3 linked regions of the Homo sapiens genome follow. The protein of the gene in region 1 binds, or shares a complex with, the protein of each later gene. Each region holds a gene or a part of one and is shown in the gene's direction. Other genes may lie near its edges.

Evidence for each region. Proteins that work in one complex are often made in the same cells at the same time.
Region 2: TUBGCP6 (region 1) and NME7 share a complex: the UniProt entries of both Homo sapiens proteins name them as parts of the gamma-tubulin ring complex.
Region 3: the proteins of TUBGCP6 (region 1) and MZT1 are in contact, whole or in part, in a crystal structure (PDB 6M33), measured with the Homo sapiens proteins. Residues at the interface, in NP_065194.3 of Homo sapiens: Met1, Ala2, Ile4, Leu7, Phe8, Asp10, Leu11, Cys12, Ala14, Leu15, Pro17, Ala33, Leu37, Val40, Ala41, Ala44, Leu45, Asn48, Ile70, Leu73, Lys85, Arg88, Leu89, Leu92, Val93, Glu95, Leu96, Leu104, Leu105, Ser109; in NP_001065243.1 of Homo sapiens: Asn17, Ala20, Val21, Thr24, Val27, Leu28, Glu30, Ile31, Ser32, Ile34, Leu35, Asn36, Thr37, Leu39, Glu42, Thr43, Leu44, Ile46, Cys47, Arg49, Leu50, Cys51, Glu52, Gln53, Ile55, Asn56, Pro57, Glu58, Ala59, Leu60.

Annotation. Positions count from the first base shown.
Region 1 is NC_000022.11:50,227,968-50,235,106, reverse strand, and holds part of TUBGCP6 (gamma-tubulin complex component 6), read left to right. Parts: intron 1-1,580; coding exon 1,581-1,791; intron 1,792-5,529; coding exon 5,530-5,703; intron 5,704-7,078; coding exon 7,079-7,139. UniProt on the Homo sapiens protein: Component of the gamma-tubulin ring complex (gTuRC) which mediates microtubule nucleation.
Region 2 is NC_000001.11:169,364,798-169,372,435, reverse strand, and holds the start of NME7 (nucleoside diphosphate kinase homolog 7), read left to right. Parts: upstream 1-4,638; 5' UTR 4,639-4,725; coding exon 4,726-4,728; intron 4,729-7,638. Other genes in the region: BLZF1 (golgin-45), read right to left, coding at 2,886-2,913. UniProt on the Homo sapiens protein: Possesses an intrinsic kinase activity. Displays 3'-5' exonuclease activity with a preference for single-stranded DNA. Does not seem to have nucleoside diphosphate kinase activity.
Region 3 is NC_000013.11:72,707,867-72,710,629, reverse strand, and holds the end of MZT1 (mitotic-spindle organizing protein 1), read left to right. Parts: intron 1-284; coding exon 285-308; 3' UTR 309-2,263; downstream 2,264-2,763. UniProt on the Homo sapiens protein: Required for the recruitment and the assembly of the gamma-tubulin ring complex (gTuRC) at the centrosome.

The DNA of each region.
Region 1 (7,139 bases):
ATAGGGTTGTGGATGATGTTCCCATGGACAGGGGTGTGGATACTGCTGTGGACAGGGGTGTGGCTGATGCTGCCGTGGACAGGGGGTGGATGCTGCCGTGGATAGGGGTGTGGATGATGCTGCGGTGGACCTGGGTGTGGATGCTGCCATGGACGGGAGTGTGGGCGATGCTGCCGTGGACCTGGGTGTGGATGCTGCTGTGGACAGGGGTGTGGATGATGCTGCCATGGGTGTGTGTGGGTGATGCTGCCAGGGACAGGGGTGTGGGTGATGCTGTCGTGGACAGGGGGTGTGGATGATGCTGCTGTGGACCTGGATGTGGATGCTGCTGTGGACGGGGGTGTGGGTGCTGGTACCATGGGTGGGTGTGGGTGATGCTGCCGTGGACAGGGGGTGTGGATGATGCTGCTGTGGACCTGGGTGTAGATGCTGCTGTGGACGGGGGTGTGGGTGATGCTGCCGTGCACAGGGGGTGTGGATGATGCTGCTGTGGATAGGGGTGTGGATGATGCTGCCGTGGACGGGGGTGTGGGCGATGCTGCCGTGGACCTGGGTGTGGATGATGCTGCTGTGGAACTGGGTGTGGATGCTGCTGTGGACAGGGGTGTGGATGCTGCTGCTGTGGACGGGGGTGTGGGCGATGCTGCTGTGGACCTGGATGTGGATGATGCTGCCGTGGACTTGGGTGTGGATGCTGCTGTGGACAGGGGTGTGGATGATGCTGCCGTGGACCTGGGTGTGGATGCTGCTGTGGACAGGGGTGTGGATGCTGCTGTGGACAGGGGTGTGGATGATGCTGCCATGGGTGGGTGTGGGTGATGCTGCCATGGACAGGGGTGTGGGTGATGCTTCCGTGGACAGAGGGTGTGGATGATGCTGCTGTGGACCTGGGTGTAGATGCTGCTGTGGACGGGCGTGTGGATGATGCTGCCGTGGATGGGTGTGGGTGATGCTGCTGTGGATAGGGGTGTGGATGATGATGCTGTGGACAGGGGGTGTGGATGCTGCCATGGATGGGGTATGGATGATGCTGCCATGGACAGGGGGTGTGGATGATGCTGCAGTGGACCTGGATGTGGATGCTGCTGTGGACAGGGGTGTGGATGATGCTGCCATGAACAGGGATGTGGATGCTGCCATGGACCTGGGTGTGGATGCTGCCATGGACAGGGTGTAGATGCTGTTGTGTACATGGGTGTACAAATCTTGTTTTGTTTCTAACAGAAGAATACTTTATGAGTGAATCACCATCTTGAGGGCCACTGGCGTGGCCTGGGGTGCTCTTCCAGGGCTGGGCCAGTCGGATACCCCCGGCCATGCCCAGGACCCCAGGAAGGTGCCCTGGAACACTTTCCACATGAGTTGTCCTGATAGAATCGATCGTGCTGGTATTCACAGCAGCAGCATCCACAAAAGGCTGGGTGGTGAGCTGACATTCATACCTGGCTATGTTTCTTAGAGTTTATTGTTTTGAATCACTTCCATTCTTCTGTTCATGCCCATTCCCGAGAGAAAGCACCCTGGTGCTGAGGTGCAGGTCACCACGTCTGCTCATGGCCTCTCTTCTGCACCCCTCGCAGCCCCCCTGGCCACAGAGAGGAGCCTTACCTGACGGAGGCGGGAAGGGACGCTTTCGACAAGTTCTGCAGGCTCCACCAAGGGGAGCTCCAGCTGCTTGCTGGGGGCGTCCTACAGGCCCCGCAGCCCGTGCTGGTGAAGGAGTGCGAGCTGGTGAAAGACGTGCTGAACGTCTTGATTGGGGTCGTGTCTGCCACGTTTTCGCTCTGCCAGGTGAGAACTGCTCACTCCCCGCCACAGTGGTGTGGGGCTGGCCTGCCCTCCACCACGCAGTGCCCAGCCCTTTATGGGGCAGAACAAGCCCCAGTGCAGGGAGTGGGGAGTGGCAGGGAAGGCCAGCTCCCAGGGCCACCAGTGATGACAGCCAGCATCATCCCATTTCGGTTCTAAAAAGTGTTAATTTATTAATGTCCTTTTAAAAAACTGCAGAGAAATAACATGTTTATTGCTGTCAGCAAAGCGATAGAAAATGTTCCTCCCCGCATTTCCATTTCCGTCCTGAAGTGCCAGGCGCCTTCCGAGCCTTCCCACCGCTCGGGAGGAGCATCTGCCTGCCGAGAGCGTCCCGAGACTGGGGCCTGCGCTGCTCTTCTCACTGGATGCGGTGTCATCCGGGATGGGGCCGGGCCTTACTGGTTCTGGCACCAGCTGCAGTTTAGCCAGCCCTCTTGCTGGGCACTGGAGAAGTGAATGGATATATTCAGAAAAATGAAGTCTTGCTCTGCAGCTTTTTCATTTAAGTGCTCATCCCCTTCCTTTGTCTTAAATGTTCTTTTATGGTGGCCATTCTTAGACTTCAGAATGGACTAGAAGCACAGCCAGTGACTGCCCCAGAAAAGTGCTCACCAGCAAGCTCCAGCTGCTGCCGGCGCTGAGGGCGCCTGTTCTCAACACCGTGCTCACAGCTCATCTTGTCTGTTGTGGGGATAGCCTTATTGTGTGGAACCAACCCTGACTCTCTTTTTTTTTTTTGAGACAGGGTCTCTCTCTTGCCCAGGCTGGAGTGCAGTGGCACCATCACAGCTCACAGTAGCCTCGACCTCCTGGGCTGAATCTCAATCCTCCCACCTTAGCCTCCATGTAGCTGGGACTACAGGCACGTGCCACCACACTCAGCTCATTTTTTTCTTTTCTTTTTCTTTTTCTTTTTCTTTTTTTTTTTTGAGACAGAGTCTCGCTCTGTTGCCCATTCTGGAGTGTAATGGCACGGTCTCGGCTCACTGCAAACTCTGCCTCCCGGGTTCAAGCAATTCTCCTGCCTCAGCCTCCCGAGTAGCTGGGATTACAGGTGCATGTCACTACGGCTGGCTAATTTTTGTATTTTTAGTAGAGACGGGGTTTCACCATGTTGCTCAGGCTGGTCTCTTGACTCCTGACCTGAGGTGATTTGCCCACCTCAGCCTCCCAAAGTGCTAGGATTACAGGCATGAGCCACCACGCCCGGCCCACCCAGCTAATTTTTAAAATGCCTGAAGAGATGGGGTCTTGCCGTGTTGCCCAGGCTGGTGTTGAACTCCTGGGCTCAAGTGATCTGCCTGCCTCAGCCTCCCAAAGTCCTGGGATTGCAAGTGTGAGCCGCCACGCCCGGCCCCTACTTTTCATTTCTGATTTTAGTAACTTGATTTTTTTCTCTTGTTTTCATAGTCATCTTTTCTTTTTTTTTTTTTTTGAGACGGAGTCTCGCTCTGTGGCCCAGGCTGGAGGGCAGTGGCGCGATCTCGGCTCACTCCAAGCTCCGCCTCCCGGGTTCACACCATTCTCCTGCCTCAGCCTCCCTGAGTAGCTGGGACTACAGGCACCCGCCACCGCGCCCGTCTAATTTTTTGTATTTTTAGTAGAGACGGGGTTTCACCATGTTAGCCAGGATGGTCTTGATCTCCTGACATTGTGATCCGCCCGTCTCGGCCTCCCAAAGTGCTGGGATTACAGGCGTGAGCCATCGTGCCTGGCCCTAGTCATCTTTTTTCTTAATTATTCTAGCTAAGACTTGTCAATTTTGTTGATCTTTTCAAAGAGCCAGCTTTTTGTTTGGTTCTCTCTATTGTTTTTCTATTTTGTATTTTTTTTTTCTTTTTGAGACGGATTCTCACTCTGTCGCCCAGGCTGGAGTGCAGTGGTGTGATCTCAGCTCACTGCAGCCTCCGCCTCCTGGGTTCAAGCGATTCTCCTGCCTCAGCCTCCCAAGTAGCTGGGACTACAGGCATGGACTACCACGCCTGGCTAATTTTTGTATTTTTAGTAGAGATGGGGTTTCACCATGTTGACCAGGCTGGTCTCAAACTCCTGACCTCAAGTGATTTCACCCACCTTGGCCTCCCAAAGTGTTGGTGTTACAGGTGTGAGCCACTGTGCTTGGCCTACTCTGTATTTATTTCTGCTCTAATTATTTTTTGTTTCCTTCTGCTAGTTTTGGGTTTAACTGCTTTTTTTTTTTTTTTTTTTTTTTTGAGATAGAGTCTCGCTCTGTTGCCCAGGCTGGAGTGCAATGGCGTGATCTCAGCTCACTGCAACCTCTTCCTCCTGGGTTTAAGCAATTCTCCTGCCTCAGCCTCCTGAGTAGCTGGGATTATAGGCGTGCACTACCTCGCCCAGCTAATTTTTGTTTTTATTAGAGATGGGTTTTCACCATGTTGGTGAGGCTGGTCTCAAACCCCTGACCTCAAGTGATCCGCTTGCTTCGGCCTCCCAAAGTGCTGGGATTACAGATGTGAGCCACTGCGTCCAGCCTGTTTTTCTTTTCTTTCTTTTTTTTTTTTTTTGGAGACAGGATCACCCAGGCTGGAGTGCAATGGCTCAAACATGACTCACTGCAGCCTCAACTTCCTAGGCTCAAATTGATCCTCCTGCCTCAGCCTCCCGAGTAGCTGGGACCAACAGGCATGCACCACCACGGCTGGCTAATTTTTAATTTTTTTTTTTTTTTGAGACGGAGTCTTGCTCTGTCTCCCAGGCTGGAGTGCAAAGGCGTGATCTCAGCTCACTGCAACCTCTGCCTCCCGTATTCAACAATTCTCCTGCCTCAGCCTCCTGCGTAGCTGGGACTACAGGTGCACGCCACCATGCCTGGCTAATTTTTGTATTTTTAGTAGAGACGGGGCTTTGCCATGTTGGCCAGGCTTGTCATGAACTCCTGACCTGAAGTGATCCACCTGCCTTGGCCTCCTGAAGTGCTGGGATTACAGGCGTGAGCCACCATGCCTGGCCTAACTTTTAAAATTTTTTTAGAGATGGGGGTCTTGCTATGTTGCCCAGGCTGGTCTCAGACTTCTGGGCTCAAGTGATCCTCCTGCCTCAGCCTCCCAAAGTTCTGGGATTATAGGTGTGAGCCACTGTGCTTGGCCTAACAGCTCTTTTTAAAATATCTCTTTAGGGTATACACGGTGCTGTTGTGGTTTGGTATCTTGTTCCTTTGTATTGCGGGATATTTTTTTTCCTTTCTAACGTGGGTATTTGCGGCTGTAACCTCCCTTCTGGCTTCTGCTACACCCCATTCGTTTTGGTTGTCATGAGCCCTCTATTGGGGGTCTCCACTCTCTGGTTATAAACATACTGTGGAGAATGTCCTGTGGCGAGTCTTTGTGCATCTTCCATCATTTCTCTAATTCATCCCGAAGAGTCAAATGAGCGGGTCTCACGGCCGTCATGTTTTATAGCTTCTGCCCCAGGAGGCTGTCTGTGTACTTGTGTCCTGTGGAAGGTGTTCTGTTTTTTTCTACCCTTTTCTACACTTGGCATTTTAAACATGTATTTTTCAGTGTGGTCAGTGAGGATTTGTGCCTCGGTTTGGTCCCTCGGTGTGGGAGTTCTGGGTATGCCTTCTGGGCATTTGCTTTTGGGTCCTGGAGGCACTCTAGGTGGCGTGGGGTTGGGTGCAAGGGTGGAGGGAGACGGCACCTTACTGGGGGTCTGGGTGCCTGGCCTCTGTGACCAGTGTCCTCTGCCCCTGTGCAGCCGGCCCAGGCCTTTGTGGTGAAGCGGGGCGTCCACGTGTCAGGAGCGTCTCCCGAGAGCATCAGCAGCCTGCTCTCGGAAGTGGCCGAGTATGGGACCTGCTACACGCGCCTGAGTCATTTCTCTCTGCAGCCCGTCCTGGACTCTTTGTACAGCAAGGGCCTCGTGTTCCAGGTATGGCCTTTGCCTCATGGTTGTCACACACCTTTGTGAGAACGGTGCACACGACCTGGAAGAGAGAATCTCAGAGGTCCTTCTGCAGGACCAGAGAGTCTAAACCTTTTCTTTCCTTGCTAACATCTGAAACCCGATAGTGGCTCTTGAGGGATGGGTCAGTGAGGATGTTTTACCTCACTAGAAACTTGGGGCAGATGTGTGTGGGCCCTGGGCTGTGTGGGCCCTGGGGTGTGTAGGAGGCAGGTGCAGCCAGCATAAGGGGTGCGCAGGGCAGGAAAGGCGTGAGTGGGGCTCTTGCTGCCTGCTCCCCAGTGGGCCCGGCACATTGTGGATGACTGACAGCGCAGGGCCCTCCTGTTGGGTGAATTTACATTGCTGGGAGTTCTGAGCCAAGTCTGGCTCCGGAAGCTGCTGTTTGGTGAGTCTTGAAGCTGGCTCATGTGCTGGGAAGAGGCCCATGGGACAGGGGCTGCACCTTGAGTGGGAGAGAATAGGCAGGTGGATGATGGGGCATTTGGGTTTGGGGGATTGAGAGGAGGGTGTTGGGGAAGGTGGGCAGAGAGCCCTGGAGGAGCCAGGCAGCGCAGCCTCCTTTGACTGTTGCTGCTGCAGCAGGGGCTGTCGGGTGGGGTGATGTGGTGAGGTGTAGGTTTTAGATGGGCTGTGGAGGTGGGCATGGTGGGAGCTGCACGGGGCGGGGAGAGCTTCTAGGCAGAGGCTCAGCCCCGGGGGACTTGAGAGCTAGAGATGGTGGAGAAGGGGTCAGAGCAGGGGACGCTGAGAAGGGCTGGACTGTGGTTCTTGTTCATCTGGCAGGCATAGCCAGGCGGCTCCTGGGGTGGGTGGACTGAGATTGGTCCAGGGTGCCCCTGTCTTAGTGTGACCTGCAGGGCCTGCTGCTGTGGCGTTGCCCAGGATGCTGGTGCCACTGAGACAGCTGTGGTCGGAGCAGCTGCAGCCCTCACAGCACTAGTGTCTGTGCACAGAGCACGGCCGCCATTTCCCCCCCAGCCCCTTTGCCATGCCCCTGGGGCAGCTGGGCTCAGATGAGAGGAAGGGTTGGTGGTGGGCGCCCCTGGGGCAGCTGGGCTCAGATGAGAGGAAGGGTTGGTGGTGGGCGCCCCTGGGGCAGCTGGGCTCAGATGAGAGGAAGGGTTGGTGGTGGGCCACAGCTTCTGGCTTCTTGTGGATGGGCCGCATTTCCACCTGGCCCGGTGGCGGGGTGTGGCTCACAGAGGCCCATTGCTTGGAAATGGAGCCCAGAGCTGAGGCAAGAAACAAAGCGCTGTTCCCAGCACTGGTGCCCCTCAGGCCCTGGGCACGGCTGCGTCCATGTGCCTGGCCGCCCTCCTCCCAGCCTCTTTGCCCACAGGCCTTCACCAGTGGCCTGAGGAGGTACCTGCAGTATTACCGGGCCTGCGTCCTTTCCACTC
Region 2 (7,638 bases), on another chromosome or scaffold:
TGAAGCTCATTAGTCTGTTAATACACTACCTAGAGTGTTTCATTTTTAACATCCAAAAACTAACCCATTTAAAAACTGCTTTATTTTTTTTCCTCTACCCTAAATCATTAATTCCTAACTTGGTTATAGTCTGAAAGACTTTCCAGAACATATACAAATTCAGCTATGATACAGTTAAACAAATTAGGGATTGTCATGTGGTAATTTTAAATCAAGAGTCTTTTTAAATGTCACCCATATCACCTAATAAAGTTTAGTTATTATTAAATTAGTAAAATAAGTTACATACAATGGACTTAAGAGTAACATCGAGATTTACTGAAGTGGAATCTAAGCATTCTTCTTACCACAGGCTCTATGGATAGAGATCCCTGGTCAAATAAGTGTGGGCAATGTTGCATACTGCATCTCTACAGAGTTTCAATGTACATTAGTATTAAAGTTATACTATAGGACTCTGAGAGGTCCCATAGTATAGCCTCTCTTTTAATACAGCATTTATCAAATTTATCTGCTCATGGAATATCTTTTTTACCTAACACCTATTATTCTACAGAACTAGTGTTAGACTATTTTATGGAATCAAAAATATTTAAATGTCTCAGACCTTTCTATTTGGTCTACTATTACTAAACTAGTTGACTTTAATAGCTTTATTTTCAATTTTAATCCCACATCCAAGAAAAGCTTTGGATTTTAAGTTTCTAATTGTTACTATTTACTGTATGTTTCCCTTTCAGAAACAGCACTAGCAGCCATGATACAACCCTCTTATGATGACAGTGCTGCTCAAATGTCTTCTGAGAGGAAGTTCTGTTGCTATACCAAACAACCGTACTTATCTCCTGAGGCAGTTACAGGAAGCACAGACAACTGACAAATGTCAACCAAGTACACCTTTTCACAGGCCATGCAATACAAGTAACTTTTGTTCACTAACATCAGATGACAGATTAAATAGAAATATGGCTAATAGAATTATTTTCCTTACTGGATAATTAAGATCACACAAAATAATGTTTGTTAAAGTGCCTTATAACTCTAATCCTCATTAAAAACAAGTAATAATAAATATTAAAAAGTAATTTAATTTCACAGAGAACTTGCCAGTACTTCTAATGACTAATCATAATATTGTATTTAGTTTTTGCTTTTTGACAAGCACCATGTTGGTTGCTTTCACATTAATTATTTAACTGCTCTTATTTCCCATTAATCCCCAGTTTATTACTTTCATTACAGTCTCTGACTTGCTTATCTAATGGTATAAAAGCCTTCTGGTGACTTATGAAATGCTGTTGCAAAGCTGAATTAAATTCAATTAAATATTTATTAGCATGATCTTTCTTCCTTGTTTCTTAAACTTATTTCAACCTGCTTTTAGAGAGGGTTTGTGGCTGGAGGTCAGTTTGCTGAAAAATTGGCATCTAGAAAACAGTTTTCCATCTTTAACTGATGGTTCTAGCATGCAGAACTCAACCCATCCAAAGAATAAGCTGGGTCAGGAGAAGTTCACTATGGGACATGTTAAAATTGTTGCCTACAGCTATGTGAAGATGGCCAGTAGGCAGTAGTCTATAAGGGTATGAATCATAAAGAAGGAGATTAGGGATATAGATAGATTTGGAAGTCATTTATATAGATAATTACTGAAGTCATGAGAGTAGAAAAGAAACAGTGGTGGAAAGTGTTGATATTTAAAAGATAAATAAGAAGGAGAAGAGGCTGAAAAAGAAAGAGAGAAGATACAGCTACAGCAGGGCTGTCCAACAGAATTTTCTTCAATGATTGAAATAGCTACTCGCCATATTTGCCTACCGACCACTTGAAGTTTGGCAAGCGTCATTGAGAAACTGAATTTTTAATTTTTAAAAAATATTAATTTAAATTCAAATAGCCACATGTAATTACCGCATTGGACAGTGAAAGGCTACAGAGTAGACTGAAAATAAAAGTGATGTCATGGAAGTCATCAAAAGAACGTATCTCAAAAGGCAGGGAATGGTCAACAGTATTAAATATTAGAGAGGACAAATCAGCTAGGACTAAAAAGTGACTACTGTATTTAGCAATTTAGGGGTTGAATTGTGTCCCCCAAATCTTTATTTGTTGAAGTACTAACCCCCCACTACCTCAGAATGAGACTTCATTTGGAAACAGGATCACTGCAGATGTAATTAGTTAAGATGAAATCATACAGGAGTAGACTGGGTTCCTTTTTTCAATATGACTGCTGTCTTTATAAAAAGGGTAAATTTAGACACAGAAACATGCACATAGGGAGAATGCCATGTGAATATGAAGGCGGAGATAAGGGTGGTACGTCTACAAGACAAGGAGCACCAAAGACTGCCAGCAAGCCACTGGAAGCTAGGAGAGTGTCTCTAATGCCTTCCGAAGGAGCACAGCCTTGTTGACATTTTCATCTTGGACTTCTAGCCTCCAGAACTGAGAGAATACATTTTGTTGTTCAAGCCATGCAGTTTGTGGTACTTTGTTACAGCAACCCCAGCAAACTAATACAACATGAAAGAGATCTTTGATACACCCTAGTTGCTTTGTCTATCTACTTAAATCTTTAAAATGTGTATTCTTATTTAAATCGTAATCTTCTAGTGTATAGGGAATATAGCTGTTAAAAACTTTGCATTAACATTAAATGTTTAAGAGTAGTCACCTAATAAATTCTAACTAATGATGTTAAATTTCACTTGTACATCTAAAGTACTGAAATATAAACACTGCACTAAAAAATAAACATAAAGGGATCTGAAATAACAAATGATTCCCAAGGGGGTCCATGAGATCTAGTTATCTGGCTCAAACGTTCCTTCACATCGTCATAAATGTCATGTTTTAAAAACAATTATAAAAAAGCCACTTACCTTTGGTTTCTAAATTTTTAGTAGTCATTTTTTCACCTTAACCACTGAAAATGCACTCCAAGACTTCTGCTGAACAACCTAGAAATGTATGCATATGAAATAATTTTAAAAATATCATATAAACACATAGAGTACCTCCAATTTAAAAGTTATGATATTTTAATTGCTTCTGTATTTAGTACGCATGCATTTAGAAAGAGAAATGTCCCTTATATCCCATTCTCACAGAAGGCATTGTTATGTCTACTAAAAGTCTCAAAAAAAAAAATTAGGGGTGGTTTACTTCTAAATACTCCGTTTCACCATCCTCACCAATACACTCTAAATTGTCAGAAGTATGTCCTGAATTTTAGCCAAGCAAAGGGAATGAAGTTACTGTGGTGGTTTTGTCATCCATATGACAAGAGGAATTTTAAAGTAATTACTTTCTTAGGAGACATACCGACACAATTTGTATACACACACACACATATCAAAAAGGAGCTTCTGTTTAGATGTTTAACAAACGACAAAAAATATTACTCAAGATAACATAATTTATACTTTTTTGGTAATAAAAAGTTAAAATTAAAATAGTGTAGCTCCAAAAGTAAAAAGAGAAACATATCGAGCCCATGCTTTCAGAAATGTATACATTGTCTTACAGTACAGACTCAGATTTACCAGAGAACATATAAGAAGGTGATGCTACTGCAATGATATAAATATGACAAACTGTACACTAGATGACAACTGGTTTCACTACAAAAAAAGATCGTTCTCAGTACTAGATACAACTCAGTTCAATTAGTGAACCCGACGACTAACTTTCTTAACAGTCACAAACTTTTCTACACTTACACTCTACTGCTCCGAAAAGAGGTATCCAAAAAACCCTTCGTAAGAGTAACGATCCCTGAAACTGCCCTTGATAGCTGCTCTGCGAAACGTACAGGCACAGCGAGTGCCTGCTGGCAAATGCCAAATGAAGCGGAGGGGGTGAAGAAGTAAGTAGGGGGAGTGAGCAGGTATGAAAGCGATAGGCCGGGAAGCGACAAGCCTGTCAACTTTGCTGTCCGGGGAAGTCGAAACCTAAGTTTCATCCCTGTCTGAAAAAGTCTTCCCGGAACAATCTTTCCCTAAATCCAAAGCTACTGGCCACCGAGCTCCAGCCAGACCTCCGTCCCTTTCCAACATCCTTAGTTATACCTGCTTGTCCTCGGATTTACCTCTAAGATTCTTATTCTCCGTATTTCAGGGGGCTTCACTTGATAGGCTCTTCGGATCGGTATCACCAGGTTAACTTCTCACAGACCTCTTCCATTCGGAAGCCGACCCGCCCAGTCCCTCCGCATATCCAGCAGCTCTCTCACTCCTAACCACTTCCGATTACTCAGGGTTTCGCTTCCGGAATACGTTTCCAAAAGAGCAGGGTAAACAAATTCTGCAGTGCGTATAAACTCAAGTAACACAGAACACACACTGTAAGGCCTCCGTAAGTGAAAAGCGGACAGATTTCTACTTTAAAATAAAATACCGTACAGCAACTTTTGGAGCCCAAGCCGCATATTCACTTAAACTTCCGGGCCAGCTGTTAAACAAACGGAAGTAAAACTGCCGGAAACAGAATAATGGCGTCTCGTAGCCCCAGGCGACAGCGTGGAGGGGCGGGTCTGTCGATTGGATGAACGCAGCTGAGATTACTCCCAGCCACTAAGGACGAAGAGGTGGGGCGGTGGCGTCCCACGCCTCGTGCGACAGTGGGCGGGGCTTTGTTGCCTGAGTAACCGTATGATGGTGGTGGTGGTGGTGTCTTCCTGTCTCAACGATACCTATTTTCTAGTGCTGAGATCCTGAGACAATGGTGAGTGCCAGGGGATGCCAGAAGAACGGCTCTGGGGTCCTACTTACTTAGCTTTCCAAGTCTTCGGGCGGATGGGCACTTAAAGTTGTCCGGTCCTCCCGACCTTCTCCCCGTTATCTCTTTCCCCCTTCCCACGGGCTGTTCCTGCAGTCTCCTCGCTCTCCGTATTTCTTACAGCACCCTGAATTCCACTAATGTTACTAAGTCTCTAGAGTAATGAAACAGAAAATTTAGGGTAAGGCATCGAGTCTAATAACCTGTTTTGAACAAACATTATGTGTTTGCATTGTTCATCATGGCATTTTTCATGTTCACAGATTCACATTAACGCGCTTTATTAAGAGTATGGGGTGGTGTGTATGTGACTGTCTCAACACTGATCTGAATCTCCCTAGATCTTGGAGTCTTTTTGCTTTTCTGAGTGGCAGAGCACTGCCCCACGCCCCCACGAGGGCCATTAACAGGTGTATGTTGGATCAGCGCTCTTCTATCCAGTTGGTTACCTTCTAGGTCTGTGCTTGCTTTTCTTTTCTCTTTTCTTTTCTTTCTTCTTCTTTTTTTTTTAAACAGAAATTTCTCCTGGGATTGCTTGGAGAGCTTCTGGAATTCACTGTTTGGGCTTCACCCCTGGAAATTCTGAATGAAAGGAATGGAGCTCGGTATTTGCATTTTAAATAAGCCTATAGGTTATTTTAATTCACCCCTATGTTTGAGAGGGTTCTAGTTAATTCACTTAACTACCATATCTTTTAAGCACTTATGGATAACGGACTGGAGGATAGAAAGATCTTTAGATAGTTATAGCTATGAATTTAGAAACAGAGCCCTCACCCACCACCCCTTGTTTCTTCATACTACTCAGCAATCCTTTTGGTTACCCCAGTTTTCCCCTGACCCATTCTCTGTGAAGACATTTTCAAACCTTCCCTTTACAAACCCTGTCTTTTGCCCTCTTCATTTCTCCTTTCTAAACATGATGGAGTATAACAGGCCATTTCTTCAACCTCATGCCCCCAACCTACACATTGCTCTATATTTTTGCCGAGCCTTTAGTCTTGTATTTCTAGTGTAGAGAAAGGGATATTAAAGGATAATCCATCCATCTTTGCTCTTGATCTCATTTGCTTCCATCTGTTACATTTCGCTTCCAGTTGTTTTTTTCTTTCCTGTGCGTTCAGCCTTTTCCTCTCCAGTTTCTTCTCTTCAGTGCTCAAGTCACACATCTTATGAAAATTAAATAAAGCAAAACCATGTCCTCCATCCTGTGTTTATCCAGTTATTTCCTAGTCCTCCTATCTATCAGTAAACTTCTTGAAAGGATATTATTTTTACTTATATCAAACAGACAAAAGTCTTCTGTCTGGCTTCTTTAATGGCTTCAAGAAAGTTGTTCTTGCTTAAGTTTCTAATGGCCTTTTAAATACCAAATACAGTAATTACTTCTCAAAATTTACATTACTTAGTCTCTTTGTGACAACTGAGGTTCATAGTCATTAATTCCTTTTACTGGCTGTGCCTGGTTTTTGAATGTCATTCTTTGGAATTAACTCCTTGATTACTTTCATTTCTTAGTCTAGACATTTTCCTTGGGTGATTTTGTCCACTCACATGGATTCTACTAACACCTTTGATTTTGCTTCTAAATTTCAATTTTCCTCTCAGATCTACTAATGCCTAACTCAGTTGCTTCCCGGACACATCTGTCTCAAATGTCCTTCAAACTTAATATGACCAAAACTGAACTTGCTATCTTTCCTCCTGGTTTCTCCTATTTTCACCAAGTTAAATAATGCTACTACTATATTATAACCTAAACTAGAAATCAGAGTTATCCTACATTCCTCCCTCTTCTATTTCTCCCATATTCAGTTGTTCACTAGATCAAATTTTAGTTTGTCATCTCCTCATTTCGTGATTATTTTAATAGTGACTTTTACAGTCTGGTCTGGAAATTCTCCAATCCATTATTTTCTCTGCCACAAGAAGGAATTTTTAAAAACCCAACCTGTTGATTTACTCACCTCCTTAAAACTCTAGATTCCCTATTTCCTACAGTAAAATGTCTAGAATGGCACACAAGTTCCTCCATGAACAAGCACTTTTCTGTCTAGCTTTTGCCTTTCCCTTTCCATACTTAAAAAAAAAAAATTCTCTTGCCTTTTAGCTACTTGCTTTTCATTGAACATACCAAGCAACTTCAAACTGGTAGTATGCCTCCTCTTTCTACTTTGCACTTGCAATTCCTTCTACACAGAATACTTGCACCCTCTTGTTGCTTGCCAAACTTATTTATTCTCCTATTACAGGCCAACGTGTTCTTCTTGCCCACTTCCCAGAAAGGCCAAACATTGAGAATGCAGGAGTTGCAGCAGAGAAAGAGTTTAATGGAGGCAAGGCAGTTGAGTGGAAGGATGGGAAATATTTCTAAAATCCGCCTCCCTGACAGCTTGGAAGTTGTGGTTTTCAAGGATAATTTTGTGGGCAGGTTGGTAGGGAATGGGCGCTGCTGATTGGTTGGGGATGAATTTATAGGTGTTTCCAAACTGTCTTCCTGTGCTGAGTCAGTTGTCTAGGTGAGAGTCATAGGACTAGTAGAGTCAGTTTCTTGGTATGAGGCATGTATCTGGGTGGCATCAGGAGGTTTGCCAGAATGCAGAAGCCTGGAAAATATCTCAAGACCAATCTTAGGTTTTACAATAGTGATGTTATCTAAAGGAGCAATTGGTGAAGTTACAAATCTTGTGACCTCTGGCTACATGACTTCTGAATAGTAAGAAATTATAGAAAAGCAAGGAACAGTAGCTGGTTATTGCTTACCTATGCCTATATTTTAGCAGATTTTAGGTCCCTCCCATAGTCCTAACCTTGCGGCCTTCTATTAGTCTTACAAGGCTGTTTTAGTCCCTAGAG
Region 3 (2,763 bases), on another chromosome or scaffold:
ATAGGTTAATGTTTCAAGTAGCAGTATGTTTTTTGTGCTCTTAACTATTATTTTAGGTGATATAACTATTTTCCACTGTTAGCCTGTGGACTGTTAACTGTACATTCAAAAGGTAGTCCTGATGTATAGCAAAACATGAAAAGCACTGCATTACTGTGATAAAAGTGGTTCTGTTTTATGGGGAATAGTTGTTTGTTAATGACAGTGCAGTATTGACAAATTTATCTTCATGATGCCTCTTTTTCCATGGTTTTATTGTAATGAATCTTACTTTCTTGTTCTAGGCTGCTGAAAATATGACAAGCTGACTTTCTGGAGAAATTCTGATGAGATATGTCAAGCTCTGCAAGAGGGTTTGAAGATTGCATTGTAGTTGAGAATGTACAATGAAATTACTGCATGCAGCAGTGTAGAAAAATTTTACTTTTTAAAAGAATTATAAAACCATAGCTTTATAAATCAGTGGAAAGTGGCTTACAGAGAGAACTATCAGATGTGTTTACATCACATCTTATTCACTTTTTTTAACAGCTCTAATGCTTTGGCATTGCTATGTTCATATTTATGTATTCCTTATTTATAGCTCTGATAGCTTTAATTTTCTAAGCAGTCTGTCTATCAGATGTGCACATCTGCTGTGCCAGGTTGAAGTATAGTGGAACCCATCAGTAGTAATGTGTAGTAGTTATGACTTGTTGACATTTCCATTATAAACTTTAATTTTGAATTGTTTATGCATTATAACTGTGGATTTATATTGTATTGGGCTGAAAGTTGACAGGATTTCAGCCACCACTTGTGAATTTTTATTTAGATTCATTATGTATATCAGAATCTTGTTTTTTGAAATAAGAGCATGGAAAACATTTCTTGTAATCTACTCTTGAACAAAGAATATTTAGTTTTTCAAACAGTTTGTTGGGCAGCTAATAGTGTGAACCAGGTCATTTTTGTATTGAGTAAAAAAATCAAACTTTGAGAAACTTGGATTTTAAAAGTAATGACAATGCTTAGGTTAGTATTATTTGTAATTTGAATCATTTACATCTAATGAGAATGTTAGTTGAGAATGTTTTCTTAAAGTTTTATATCCTATAAATAACGGAATAAAAAAATTTGTAAAATGAAACAACAAACATGCAAAATTCCTATTTACTTTTATTACATAAAAGTAATTTTAGTGCTTACCTAATAAATCTTGAATGGTTATTTAATAAATTATTAGATGGGTGATGTGTTTCAAAAGATACTTGCTATTTTTTGAAGAAATAAGGATTTCCAGTCATTAAACAAAACTAAACAATCTTATTAGATGGGTGATGTGTTTCAAAGGATACTTGCTATTTTTTGAAGAAATAAGGATTTCCAGTCATTAAACAAAACTAAACAATCAAATGTTCTATATTAGGAATCTCAAGTATGGCTTTTTTTAAAAAACCTTTTTAACATCTTGATGTCAAGGATTATAAGTATGGCTTTTCAGAATTGTTTTGTTTGTCATTATTCTTGCCTTTAAAATTTTAACTCATCAAAGTGAAGATTAGAAATAAATTTTAGAAAATGTAGAATAGTATTGATTCTGTTCCTGTAATAGAATCTCAGTGGAGTTTTTTTGCAAAACTAATATGGATTTCATCTGATTTTATTATTTCTTAAATTTTAGATTTTATTGAGTACCATTTATATGATTGTACAAGCATTCACTCTTTACTAGCATTTTTTGTTTTTCAGACAAGCTGAAGTGGTTTTATTAAGATTTGGTAATATTTAAATAGCAACCTTCTCTGCCTTTTTTTTTTTTTAATATAGAATTTTGACCATTTTGACTTTTTAAATGCCTGGCATCTTTACCAACCAAGTAAACTGGAAGATCTGTTACTGGTAGAACAGGTTGAGGAGACAGTAGGAATTTGTAAAAAGTCATTTGATTTATAATCAACACTACAAATACTATGTGTTATTTATAAAATCATAAAGAACACTTTTGTCAGACTCCAAAATTTGTATATACTTCCAGGCCATAAGAGTTGATAGTATTATTTATGACTTTGTAGATTAAGTTATTTATGTATGAAACAAAGCAGGAAAATATATTGAGAAGGGATCGTGTTTACAGAGGACTTCTTTAAAGTGTCACATTTTTAAAATGTAAACATATTTTTAATGCATACTTAAGTAATATTTAAGAAACTAAACAAAATAATGATACAATTGCAGTGTTGTGCTTGTTGTCAATGACAAAAATAAAACCATTTTGGTGGTATTGGCCTGTACTTTTGTTTTAATATATGCTTTTGTTAATTCAACTTGTGTTTCTATAGGACAAAAGATACAGAACATAAAATTTACCATTTTAACCTTTTTTTTTTTTTTTTTTTGAGATGGAGTCTCACTCTGTCACCCAGGCTGGAGTGCATTGGCATGATCTTGGCTCAATGCAGCCTCCGCCTCCTGGGTTCAAATGATTCTCCTGCCTCAGCCTCCCGAGTAGCTGGGATTACAGGCACCTGCCACCATACCTGGCTAATTTTTTGTATTTTTAGTAGAGGCGGGGCTTCACCATGTTGGCCAGGCTGGTCTCAAACTCCTGACCTCAGATGATCTGCCTGCCTCAACCTCCCAAAGTGCTGGGATTATAGGCATGAGCTACAATGCCCTGCCCTTTTTAACCATTTTTAAGTTTCATAGTTCAGTGACATTCAGAATATTCTTATTGTATTGTAACTATCACTATTGTCCATCTCTTGAACTTTCTTATCCCAA